Linked DNA regions of Homo sapiens. The protein of the gene in region 1 interacts with the protein of each later gene in a pairwise test. Each region holds a gene or a part of one and is shown on either strand. Other genes may lie near its edges.

Region 1 (7,296 bases):
CTTCCTCTATCCCTCATGGATTAGGGTAGAGGTTCTCAAAAGCTTTGGTCTCAAGACCAATGCTTGACATTATTACATATTGTTAAATATTGTTGAATACTGTTAACAGTGTTAAATATTGTTGAAAATCCCAAAGATCTTTTATTTATCTAGGTTATATTTATCTATGTTACTTGTTAATGTTTAAAACTAAGGAAAGTTTAAATTATATATTAATTTAAATATTAAAAATAATAAATTAATTACATGTTAACAGTTAAAATTCTTATAAAATAACAGTAAAAATTGTTACACTTTTTCTTCTTTTTGTACTTACAAAATAAGTACATTTTCCAAAACAGTACAATTTAGTGGGAAGAATGACATTGTTATGCATTTTTCCAAATGTTTTTAGTATTTTGCTTAAGACAGGTGGATTCTCATATCTCCTTCTGCATTTAGTCTGTTACAATATGTAGTTTTAGCTGAAGCATATATAAAGGCAATCTGACATGATATAAAATTAGAAAAGAGAGTAGTATTTTGATGATAATTACAGATCACTGTGGATATTATTCCTTGATACTACATGAATACTTGATAAGGAGTAGCTTGTTTCCTAAATGTTTTTGGTAATGTGGACTCTGAATCCTCAACAATGACCTTTTGTACTTTATTACGTTAAAATCCATTGCTCTATCTTACACTTTGAGTGACCATTTTACCAGTACATCATTCTATATTGTGCATTGGTCATTTGGAAAATATTGGTTCACCAAGTAATGCAGAGCTTCCAAATATTGACACATTGCATTAAATAATATCAAAAAGATCACCTCTTTACTTCCATTGATATCACATTGGTTGATAAAGGTTTTCCAAGCTTCTCATTTTTGTTTGAAATCTCCAATTTATCATTGGCAACAAATAGTTGTTTTCCCTGAAGTGACAGATTAACTTTATGTTTTACAAAATACTTTCATAAAACTATAGTCTGCATAGCCATAGATGTCTATGTGAAAATAGCATTCTATGGAAAAAAAAAAAAAGCAAAAACTCAACAGCTTGTTCAGCTCCTAAATCAAACAATCACAGAAGTGCTTTTCTTTGAATAGATTCTTCTGAAATAATCAGTTGAAAACACTTGTCCAGTGAAGGTGTTTATCCAGTGGTGCTCTCTAGTAACTTTTTGACCTCAGGATTCCGGTTTTCTTCAGTTGCCTACAACCTTTTAGTCCCTTTAAACATCAGAATTTCTCTTCCATCTGAAGATAGCATAAGTTAATACTTAGGGTATCAAACTTCATTTCCTTGTTTCATTAGCCAGTTAATTATTTCCAATAAATTTTAGTTCACTACAAACAAAATATGTATTCCTTCTTGAAAGTACAGTAGCATGATGTTTTAAAATTTTTCAGTTGAAATAAGGCCATTATTTTTCAAGTCTACACATGTGATTGGTTATGAGGGAGGAGTAAATCTGGAAAATTATGTGTGTTAAAAGCAGGAAGATCAAGAGAAACTTTAGTTTTATTTTAGATAATGCCTAAGGAAAAGAAAGTTTCAGAGATGATGGAATTAAGGGAAGAATCTTTGTAAGAGAAGGGTGAACATTCTAGGTAGAAGATGAGGATAGATTTTAACATGCTATTTTGTCTTATGAAAAGAGATAAATTAGGTAGGAAAGGTAAGCATCACCATCTTATAGAAGAAGAAACCTAGACAAAGTGAATTTTCCAATTGCCCAAGATTGTGTCTCTTATTTTTGGAGTTGGAAATAGAACCCAAGTCTCCTAATGCTCAGTCCGGAAAGCATTATTACTGTATTGTTTTTAATTCTCCCATATCTCAATCACTTATGATAAATGAAAGTTATAAGGAGAAACACTTTAAAATATTTAAATGCTTCAGATGTTTAAAAATATTTTTTAAGGTAGTGATGAGTTTTCAACAATATCTGATAAATTGAAAGCCTTAAGAGCCAGATTCTATTTTCCACAGAAAGAAAAAAACCTACATAGCCCCAGACCTTTATCTTCATGTCAGTTTAGATGATCTCTTAAATGTAACATAAACCCTTAAAATCTATATTTTTTGCAGGAAGAAATTTCATTTTATTGTTTTGTTAAAAGACTATTTTAAGAGTCATTGCTGTCTATTTTTTTGAACATAAGAATGTACTTTGGCTAGGAGATAAAGGTTTTGATTAATTACCAGGCAATTTTAAATGCACTTGTGGCAAATAGCTCTTCTTTTTCTGTTGAATAAAGACAAAACCAATTGAATCTATATTCTGTAAGTTAATAGCACTATAAATTTGAGAAACTATTCAATTTTCATAAATTGATTAAAAATTCCTAGTGTGATTCTCCTGCCTCGCTTGAACCCGGGAGGCAGAGGTTGCAGTGAGCCAAGATCACACCACTGCACTCCAGCCTGGGCAACAGAGCGAGACTTCGTCTCAGAAAAGAAAAAGAAAGAAAAGAAAAGAAAAATTACTAGTGAGAGAAAATTCTTCTAATACACGAATGCTGTGAAATGTAATAATGCACTTCTTAAATTCTTAGTGCAAAAAAATTATGGAGTGTAAAGTAAGATTTCAATTATAATGTTGGTGCTTTCCCCCAATAATTAAATTCTTTTTTTGTTTTCAGTTAATTGACAAGTACCAGTTGAAAATAAAAGTACAAGACATGGATGGTCAGTATTTTGGTCTACAGACAACTTCAACTTGTATCATTAACATTGATGATGTAAATGACCACTTGCCAACATTTACTCGTACTTCTGTAAGTGTATGATATTAATTAAAGAAAAATGTATAGACCAGTTTTAATTGTTTAATATGCACATCTCTGGCCTGGCGCAGTGGCTCACGCCTGTAATCTCAGCACTTTGGGAGGCCGAGGCGGGCGGATCACCTGAGGTCAGGAGTTTGAGAACAGCCTGGCCAACATGGTGAAATCCCGTCTCTACAGAAAATACAAAAATTAGCCGGGCATGGTGACAGGCACCTGTAATCCCATCTACTCGGGAAGCTGAGGCAGGAGAATCGCCTGAACGTGGAAGGCAGAGGTTGCAGTGAAGGAAAAGAAAAAAATGCACATCCCCATCCACCCCTCATGATTTCAAATGAAGTGCCCCAGTGACATTAAAAGTTGTATAGTGCTAGGGTTTCAAATCATGTAAACATAGTACTTTGGAAATTAGAAGAGTAGGATTTACTTCACATCGTGTTCAATTTTTGTGAGAGTTACTAACGAAATTTTTTGTTTGCTTTTATTATTTTAGTATGTGACATCAGTGGAAGAAAATACAGTTGATGTGGAAATCTTACGAGTTACTGTTGAGGATAAGGACTTAGTGAATACTGCTAACTGGAGAGCTAATTATACCATTTTAAAGGGCAATGAAAATGGCAATTTTAAAATTGTAACAGATGCCAAAACCAATGAAGGAGTTCTTTGTGTAGTTAAGGTAAGAATAAATTAGAACATTATTTGTAGTTTATAATATCATAGAATAGCATGCTAGAATTTAATGGAAAGAAAGGAATTCTGATAAATGTAGAATAAAATAGGTATATAAGTAAATGCAAATGCTCTGTTCTTCATATACAATGGAAAGAATATATTAGTTTTTGATAATCTTTTGTTTAGGTATTTTTTTTTTTAAAAAGTCCATATAATACAATATCTATTTTGTAACCAATATCTTTAAATGGTTCAAAAACTAGCACAGCTTTGATGCCCCTGGGACAGTGCCAGACTTTTCCTAGCCCAGTTTTTCTGTGTTTGGGTCAAGGAGCCTTTATTTACTTACTGAATTTCCCAAATCAAGAGTTACTCTTGGTCAGCCCCATGGAGAGGTTATTCATAGGTTTGTTCATCATATTCAGTATATATTACATCCTTAGCATCCAGGTTCAGAATGAAAATCCTCAGTGATTCAACAATGCAAACACTTCTAAAACTTCTTTCTAATACTATTTCAGCAGCCAGAGTTAGTGCATAAAGCAATCTGAGCTCCTTTAGCCTTGGACAAATTTATAGACTTATTTCTGCTGCATCTTTAACCAGAACATGGTTTTACAGTGGGTCTATGCCGTTTTCTTTTTGTATATATTCACAAGGACCATGGATTAAAAAATGATGAATCCATTTTCCTTACAATGATGAAAATCAGCTGCTGTTTTTATATTATTTTCTCTATTTTAAAATAGCAGAGAAATTTCCTTTAAATCTTGTCTCTTTCTTCACCTAACCCCTCCCCTAATCCTTGGTATTCTCAGAAGGAAATTTGTGTGAAGTCCAAGACCTGAAAAAATTTCTGTCTTCTAGGGCATGGTTTCACTAATTCTCATTACAACTACATATCAGGCAAGATAAAATAAAACCTTTTATTAAATATGTTCCCGTCTTTAAGACAGGAACTGGAATGGAAGACACACATAAAAAAAGAAAATATGATGCCCATAAGCTTTGTATTTTCTTGTCTTGCTCCTCTTAAAAGCATTTTAAAAAAATTTACCCATTTTTTTCTCTTCCTCATACCAGGTACAAATAATTTTATTCATCTTAGGAGGGTAAGACAAGCTGTCCTAAAATTTATTTTGTAGTAAATAACTATTGTTTATAGTATGAATCCCCTAAAGGAGTATCTCATGTATTAATATCCAAGAACCCTCATTAAATACTCTCTGAAATCTTCATCAATACCTGTTATACTACTTATCTTAAATTTGCAGTTGAAGAACAATTTTCTGTCCTTTTTTTTTTCCAGCTTTACCCAAGTACTGAATCAGTGGGAGAACTCCTCTGTCTCCACCACCACTGGGTTTCTGGGTGTATTAGTCTGTTCTCACATTGTTATAAAGAACTACCTGAGACTGGATAGTTTATAAACAAAAGAGGTTTAACTGACTCGCAGTTCCACAGGCTGTGTAGGAGGCATGACTAGGTAGGCCTCAGGAAACTTATAATCATGGCGGAAGGCAAAGGGGAAGCAAGCCCATCTTCACATGGCAACAGGAGAGACAGAGCAAAGGGGGATGTGCTACACACTTTTGAACAACCAGATCTTGTGAGAACTCACTCACTATCATGAGCAGTGGGGAAATCCACCCCCATGATCCAATCACCTTCCCTCAGGTCCCTCCCCCAACATTGGGAATTACAATTTGACATGAGATGTGGGTGGCGACACAGAGCCAAACCATATCACTGGATATATGTTTCATATTCTCGTGGTTATTCCCAACATGACACTTAACATATTTCCAAATTTAACATTATATATACTCGTTAGCATTGCCAAATATTAAATGAGTTCATCTGATTTTTCAATACATTTGCTTTCGTAGCCTTTGAATTATGAAGAAAAGCAACAGATGATCTTGCAAATTGGTGTAGTTAATGAAGCTCCATTTTCCAGAGAGGCTAGTCCAAGATCAGCCATGAGCACAGCAACAGTTACTGTTAATGTAGAAGATCAGGATGAGGGCCCTGAGTGTAACCCTCCAATACAGACTGTTCGCATGAAAGAAAATGCAGAAGTGGGAACAACAAGCAATGGATATAAAGCATATGACCCAGAAACAAGAAGTAGCAGTGGCATAAGGTACTTACCATTCTATTTTAGTTTTAAAATATATAGCTTATTTTGTTACGTTATTATAATTTAGCATATGATAAATTTTATTATTTTAATTCATCATTACCAACAGGTATAAGAAATTAACTGATCCAACAGGGTGGGTCACCATTGATGAAAATACAGGATCAATCAAAGTTTTCAGAAGCCTGGATAGAGAGGCAGAGACCATCAAAAATGGCATATATAATATTACAGTCCTTGCATCAGACCAAGGTAAGAATTTGTCTTTAAGCCAGCTACATACTTCCTTGGCTACATACATCTTCAGTGTTTAAGCCAACAGTATACATTTTAAAGCTGGATACATGCACTCTGTTTTCATATCTCTTGATAATATAAAGTAAGAGGTTTACTATAATTTATTAACTCATGTCTGCTTTCTAATAGCCTTCTCAGTTTTAGATGTAATTATAAAATAATTTACTCTTAGAAACACTTGAGACCATAATTTATTAAAGTTAAAATTATTAAAAATTGAGAAAATTATTTTAGTAAAACTTGTTTCAGCTGGGTGTGGTGGCTCATGCCTGTAATCCCAGCACTTTGGGAGGCTAAGGCTGGAGGATCACTTGAGGTCATGAGTTCGAGACCAGCCTGGCCAACATGGTGAAATCCCGTCTCTACCAAAAATATTAAAAATTAGCTGGGTGTAGTGGCATGCACCTGTAATCCGAGCTACTCGGGAGGCTGAGGCAGGAGAATTGCTTGAACCCAGGAGGTGGAGGTTGCAGTTAGCCAAGATCGCGCCACTGCACTCTAGCCTGGGCGACAGAGTAAGACTCTGTCTCAAAACAAAAACAAAAACAAAAACAAAACAAAAACAAAAACAAAACTTGTTTCAGTTTATCTACTTATTTCGCTTAAAGTGTTCACTTTGTAGGAAAGTGAGAACATACTTACATAGTGCAGTCCTGGAAAACATACTTACACAGTGCAGTCCTGGAAAACAGCTCTAACTTTTTACAGGAAGCTAACAATATACTTGGGGGTTAGAATTCTGATTAAAGACATTATATAAAAATAAATCATGGTATATTTATGATCATGGTAAATAAATAGTATATTATAAAATTAGAGAGACAAACACTATGAATTCATATAATCATATAAAATGTAAAATTATGTTCTGTGCATTCTATAAAATTGAGAGAAATATGAGTATGATGATTATTTATGAGACGCGTTTGGTGCATAAAATATAATTTCTATAACATGAATTTGAACTTTATGTCTTTGTAAAATAAATATGCTAAATATAACAAACAAATTATTATACTATAACTTGCAAAATTAGAATTTAGAAGTGATTTTGGAAGATGATTTATGTATTCCAGTTCTCTGTAAATTAATGAGAAATGACTCAGTTTGTTAAATTGCTGAAGTTGTAATCATTATTGATTTGTCTTTAACTAATTAAAGACTGTCCTTTAAGGCCTCAGATTCTCATGTCTTTTTGCCAAGAAATACTTGTTGGTCAAAGGCAAATGAAAAGAAAAAAAAAACATGAAACTCAACGGCACTTGGAAATAGTTTATTGACAGTTGAGATAAAAATTGCTGTCTGAAATTAGAAATTTTGCCTATAATTTTATTCTACATTCTCGTCTGTTGCAGAGGAGTTTAAGTGATTGAGAGATCAAATATTTGTTATGGAATTGAGATG
Region 2 (5,819 bases), on another chromosome or scaffold:
TCAACAGAGGGTCAGACTCCAGAACTTCTCTTGGTTGTGCATTCCAGCATTGTATTGGCCTAATGAATTAGTTTCCCAAAGCCACAGCTGTGATTTAATAACAGCAGAATGTAGGCAAAGCAGGAGTCCTCTGAATAGGCAAGTGCCCTTTTCCTCACTTCCATCTTAGGAGGGGATGTCACACCAGGTGGTTTAGAAGAAGCAGTGATGGGCTGGGCACAGTGGCTCATGCCTGTAATCCCAGCACTTTGGGAGGCCCAAGCAGATGGATCACTTGAGGTCAGAAGTTCGAGACCAGCCTGGCCGACATGGCAAAACCCTGTCTCTAGTAAAAATACAAAAATTAGCTGGGTGTGGTGGTGCGTGTCTGTAATTCTAGCTACTTGGAAGACTGAGGTTTGAGAATCACTTGAGCCCAGGAGGCAGAGGTTGCAATGAGCCGTGATCGTGCCACTGCACTCCAGCCTGGTTGACAGAGTGAGATTCTGTCTCAAAAAAGAAAAAAAAAAAAAAGCAGCAGCAGCAGTGATGACACAGGAGAAGCAGTCAGGGGGTAGCCTGATGAGAAAGTCTTGCTTTCACAGTTTTTTCTCTGTCTTATCTCTTCCGCATCTTATTCCCTTTTGATAATAGAAGGTCCAATGCATGTCATTCCACATCTGTGTTCCTGTTTTCAACTTTTCCCTATTAAAAAAAAAAAGGAGGAGAATGAAAAACCTTGTATAACCAAATTATTTACTATTAGTTAATTTAGAGTGATGAGATTGGAAAGGGGCATGAAGATTATCTTTTTCTCTTTATACAATTCTGAATTGTTTGACTTATTACAAATAGATATGTTACTTTTGTAAATAACCAAACAAGAAAAGAAATGGCTATGATAGCCTAGTTTTAATGAGTTACAAAGCAGATGACTTCACCTGTACTGAAGAAATGTGTGCTTGGCTGTACAGGGATGTACATGTTACCTCTACTACAGCCCCACCCAATTTAGGCCCCTTCTGCTCTGCAGCCCCACTCTGCAGTGCACACAAGGAAGGAAGACTGCATTTAGAGTCAGATTAAAACAAGCCCTGAGCACTGGCTGGAGTGTCAGTTCCCCAAGAATATTCACCCATCCCCAGAGGCTGGCAGATAGTATTAGAGTTGCTCAGTCTTTGTGGAAAGAGTGAATTACTGTTGCAAAACAGAAATGACTTTTCTTCCAAATAGTCATCCAAACTTCCAAGCAAATCACCGTAAGATAGTATGATGCTCATTATTCGAGTATTCAGACATAACAATTGTTGCACATGGCAATATGCAATTACTTTTGGAAACTTCTGGTAGCTTAGCAAGATAAGGGGTGAGCTACTCTGTTACTTGTTTATTTCCGAGTGTCCACTTGTGAGTCCTCACATGCCCTGTCTCAAAAACAAAAGTTAACAAGGAGCTTCTTGCCAGTGGTGTCTGCTGCTCTTTCCTTACTAGAGTGTTATATATCTGACCTACCGTTTGTGGACTAGCCTGGGAACTAATTATCATTTATAACATTACATCTTTGAATAAAAGAGTACCAAGTATCAAACAACCAACTTATAAACAAATATTATGAATATAACAGCCTTGCAATTTAATAACTTTTTACAGTTTTGAATATTAGAGACCCATCACTTTGATGGATTTATTTGCCCTTCAGTTATTACCAAGTGATTCTGAAAAGTCCAGGGGTTACTAATAAGTGCTGATTTGACTGCTCCTCCCTGCCAGGCTAGTATGGAGGAGAAAGACTTTTCACTCTTGAAGGAACACACCATGCTCTTCTCCGTACATCTTTGCACTCTCTGGTTTTGGTTTTATGTTTACAAATGCCTGTGATATGGGGGGAAAAAGAATCTTTGTTTAAGAAAAAAAATCAGCCATGTGCTAATCAGGTGATAGAAGAGAAAGAGATCTAAGGCGGCACTGATCTAAGCCAGAGGTGGGACATTTAGGATAAAGTTAAAAGCAGAACATGGGCTGGGCACAGTGGCTCACATCTGTAATCCCAGCACTATGAGAGGCCGAGGCAGGCGGATCATGAAGTCAGGAGATCGAGACCACCCTGGCTAACACAGTGAAACCCCATCTCTACTAAAAATACAAAAAATTAGCCTGGCGTGGTGGCATGCGCCTGTAGTCCCAGCTACTTCGGAGGCTGAGGCAGGAGAATCGCTTGAACCTGGGAGACGGAGGTTGCAGTGAGCCGAGATCGCTCCACTGCACTCCAGCCTCAAAAAAAAAAAAAAAAAAAAAAAAGCAGAATATGAAAGACTAAGTACAGTTCAAATGCAGTGGTGACTTTGATTTATAGCAAGAACAAGTTTTCCATTTGCTCTATATGGAAACGTAAAGAGATTTTGAAACTGCTTTAACAAGGGCTGCCACAAGAATTTCTTTTATTGACTTGAAAAATTACTCCTACATTCATGATGTCACAAAATCGTATGTATTTTTCAGTCATGGTTTCATGCATTTTTATTCTATAAACATACATTATAAGTATACAAATATAGATTATATTCTATAAATAATTCAAGGATTTATAACATATCTAAAGATACATTCCTTATAAATATCAGGGATTTTTCTGTATAAATTACTTGTTTGTTTATTATTATTATTATTATTTTGAGATGGAGTCTAGCTTTGTCACCAGGCTGGAGTGCAGTGGCGTGATCTCGGCTCACTGCAACCTCCGCCTCCCGGGTTCAAGTGATTCTCCTGCCTCAGCCTCCCGAGTAGCTGGGATTACAGGCACACACTGCCACGCCCAGCTAGATTTTGTATTTTTAGTACAGACGGGGTTTCACCATGTTGGCCAGGATGGTCTGACCTCGTGATCTACCCACCTCAGCCTCCCAAAAGTGCTGGGATTACAGGCGTGAGCCACCCCACCTGGCCTATAAACTATTTATTTATTAGCACTGTGCTAGTGGTTTAAAAAGAAAACAAAAACAGATATGGTCCCCGCCTTGCAGAGCTTGCTGCCTAATTGTCTGGTCACCGAGTGGCCTGACTTCATGGATGGCTGCTGCGGAGTAGCAGTTGAGGAGCGAAGAGGTCTTACAGAACACCCACAGGCCGCATCCAGAAGCCTCACTCATTCTCCCTGATCTCAGAATGTCCTTTTCTTTTCAGCTATGCCTCCAACAAAGCAAGTAAAGCTGCTTCCGTCCTTCTGTATTCTCTGTGGGCACACACGGAACTGCATCATGCCTACAAGAAGGTAAGAACATGAACAAGGAATGTGTCATAGTTAACAGAGCCAGGTAATAATGGCCCACTTGACTTGACCCTGGGAAGAAATCGCTAAAAAACTGCATTTTCTTGTGTGCCAGTTTTGTTACCTTTCACGTTTCTGTTTGCTTATTCCAAAGGCTCAGTTTAAGAAGACAGATTTTGTCAACAGCCGGACTGCCAAAGCCTACCACTCCCTTAAAGACTGAGGAAAATGACAAAGTATTCTCGGCTGCAAAAATCCCCAAAGGAAAACACCTATTTTTCTACTACCCAGCCCAAGAAACCTCAAAAGCATGCCTTGTTTCTATCCTTCTCTATTTCCGTGGTCCCCTGAATCCAGAAAACAAATAGAACATAATTTTATGAGTCTTCCAGAAGACCTTTGCAAGTTTGCCACCAGTAGATACCGGCCACAGGCTCGACAAATAGTGGTCTTTGTTATTAGGGCTTATGGTACATGGCTTCCTGGAATCAAAATGTGAATTCATGTGGAAGGGACATTAATCCAATAAATAAGGAAAGAAGCTGTTGCATTACTGGGATTTTAAAAGTTTGATTTACATTTATATTCCTTTTCTGGTTCCCATGTTTTGTCACTCATGTGCACATTGCTTCGCCATTGGGCCTCCAGTGTATTGTTCTGCAGTGTTGAAACAGAATGGAAATGACAAGAAATATCTGCAGTTATCCAGGAGAAAGTATAATGGCAAAATTATTGGTTTCTTTCTTTACTTTGTGCTTGTTTTTATCCCCTTGGGTTGTTTTTCTCTGATTTTTAAATAAACTTAAGAAATTTAGATTACAGAGTATGCATGACTGTAAGAAAAAGAAATTGAGAGGAAGTGATCATAGCAAATTAAAGAAGTCTTTTCCTCCCAGAACTTAAAGTAAAATAAAAAATAAATAAATAAATAAAATCTTTTCCACAGAGAAAGGCAACTGTGATGATAAAATTTAACGTTCCCCCAAACACTGAGTCAATGAGATTTTTCTCAGGAGATACTTTACCTATAACAACGCCGTTAAATCCAAATCTCTTCTAAACGATGGCATTCTATGTAATGCCTTTCCTGGACTTTTTTGGCCACTGCCCTGGACTAGTGAAAGAATGGACTCTATCTTTATCTGCAAGAGGAACTAAGGCCTTCTCTCAGACTGCCTGGCCAGCCTGGGGCACTGAAAATACGGCTCATGTTAATGAGTTACATTATCAGCCAGCCCAGCCTTGCCCACCATTTAAGAAATATCACAGAGCCACTAGATCTCATATGATCTTCTTCAAGCCATTATTTTAACTCAAGAAAACTCTAGAGAAGAAAAGTGAAGAAGTCATGTTGAAGAAGATGTAAGAATGTGTCAAGACCATCCAGAAATGATATGAGAAATACTGATATTTTAAATGGTTGACATCATCCAGCGAAATGAATCTACATTAAATGTTGTTTTAACTGCGCTATGATTAAAACCATTCATATAGAGTTAGTCTTTACAACTACTATTCTGTTATTTTTTTTTTTAATCTGACAACATTTGTCCTAAGTAAGATAAGCAAAAAAATTCTTCAACTCCTTTTGGCAAGAAAACTGTAACAGAAAATAAATTTTGAATGTGTACTTAAGTCTTTATTATATTTGAAGCAATTTTTTTTCAATTTTAAAAGCTGAATGAAGACAACTTAGGTTGCTAACCTAGTTCAAAATGAAATTATTTAGATACCAATTTTTAAAATACTGGAGAGAATTTATATGTCTTTTTCCAGAGTTCTGATGATAAGCATTTGGAGTGCATTTATTCCTCCAGATAATAAATGTGTGTTCAGAACTTTTTGTGTTTTTTAAGGCATTAATAAAGCCTTCGATAATATTAAATACAAAATGAGACCAAAGTAGTGTTGCTTGCATTGGCGTCTGTGTATATCTGGTTTATTTGTGTATCTTGGAATATATGGTATGATTGACATAAAATTTGAGGATTTAACCTTATAAACTTCAATTACTAAGGGTTTGATACTTTGTAATTAGTTATATTTTCCCCTTAATTAAAATCCTAAATTTTTACCAAGAGACATTTCCTGTGAGAATGGTGGGACTAGATGGTGACCTGACCATAAAAATGAAGACACATGCAGACGTGTTAGCTGCGGTTAGATTTTAGTATATTATTGGGTGATTCTGTGACTGTGAAAAGACAGACTACGTTTGATTTCCATGTGCTGCTTTGTTCACTCTGTTTGCAAACACCTCACTACTTTACAATTTGTGAACACCTCTCAGGGAGGTTCTTCTGTGAATGAACAGTTTTGATCACAGGTCTATACATAAATGTGTTTGTTTTCCTATGTGTCCCAGACAGGGCCCATGCCTTCAGAGAAACTAATGGGCAAAGCTGGGCCTTTTTGTTTATTTGTTCCAAAGGGCTGCTCTCTGTCAAGAATTCTTAATGGTCTTCTGGAATGAAGGGGGTTGCTGCCCTAGATTTCCATCACTGGAAACGTTTGTGTAGATCTGATGGCAATAACCAAAGGGTTATCTGATAAAATAGAGAGGGGATTAACATGT

The links.
Region 2: the proteins of DSC2 (region 1) and PKP2 interact in a two-hybrid assay, tested with the Homo sapiens proteins (one study listed by BioGRID).

The regions. Positions count from the first base shown.
Region 1 is NC_000018.10:31,078,398-31,085,693, reverse strand, and holds part of DSC2 (desmocollin-2 isoform Dsc2a preproprotein), read left to right. Parts: intron 1-2,633; coding exon 2,634-2,768; intron 2,769-3,270; coding exon 3,271-3,456; intron 3,457-5,341; coding exon 5,342-5,598; intron 5,599-5,704; coding exon 5,705-5,847; intron 5,848-7,296. UniProt on the Homo sapiens protein: A component of desmosome cell-cell junctions which are required for positive regulation of cellular adhesion.
Region 2 is NC_000012.12:32,790,072-32,795,890, reverse strand, and holds the end of PKP2 (plakophilin-2), read left to right. Parts: intron 1-3,159; coding exon 3,160-3,247; intron 3,248-3,398; coding exon 3,399-3,467; coding exon of another isoform or gene 3,468-3,612; 3' UTR 3,613-5,136; downstream 5,137-5,819. UniProt on the Homo sapiens protein: A component of desmosome cell-cell junctions which are required for positive regulation of cellular adhesion.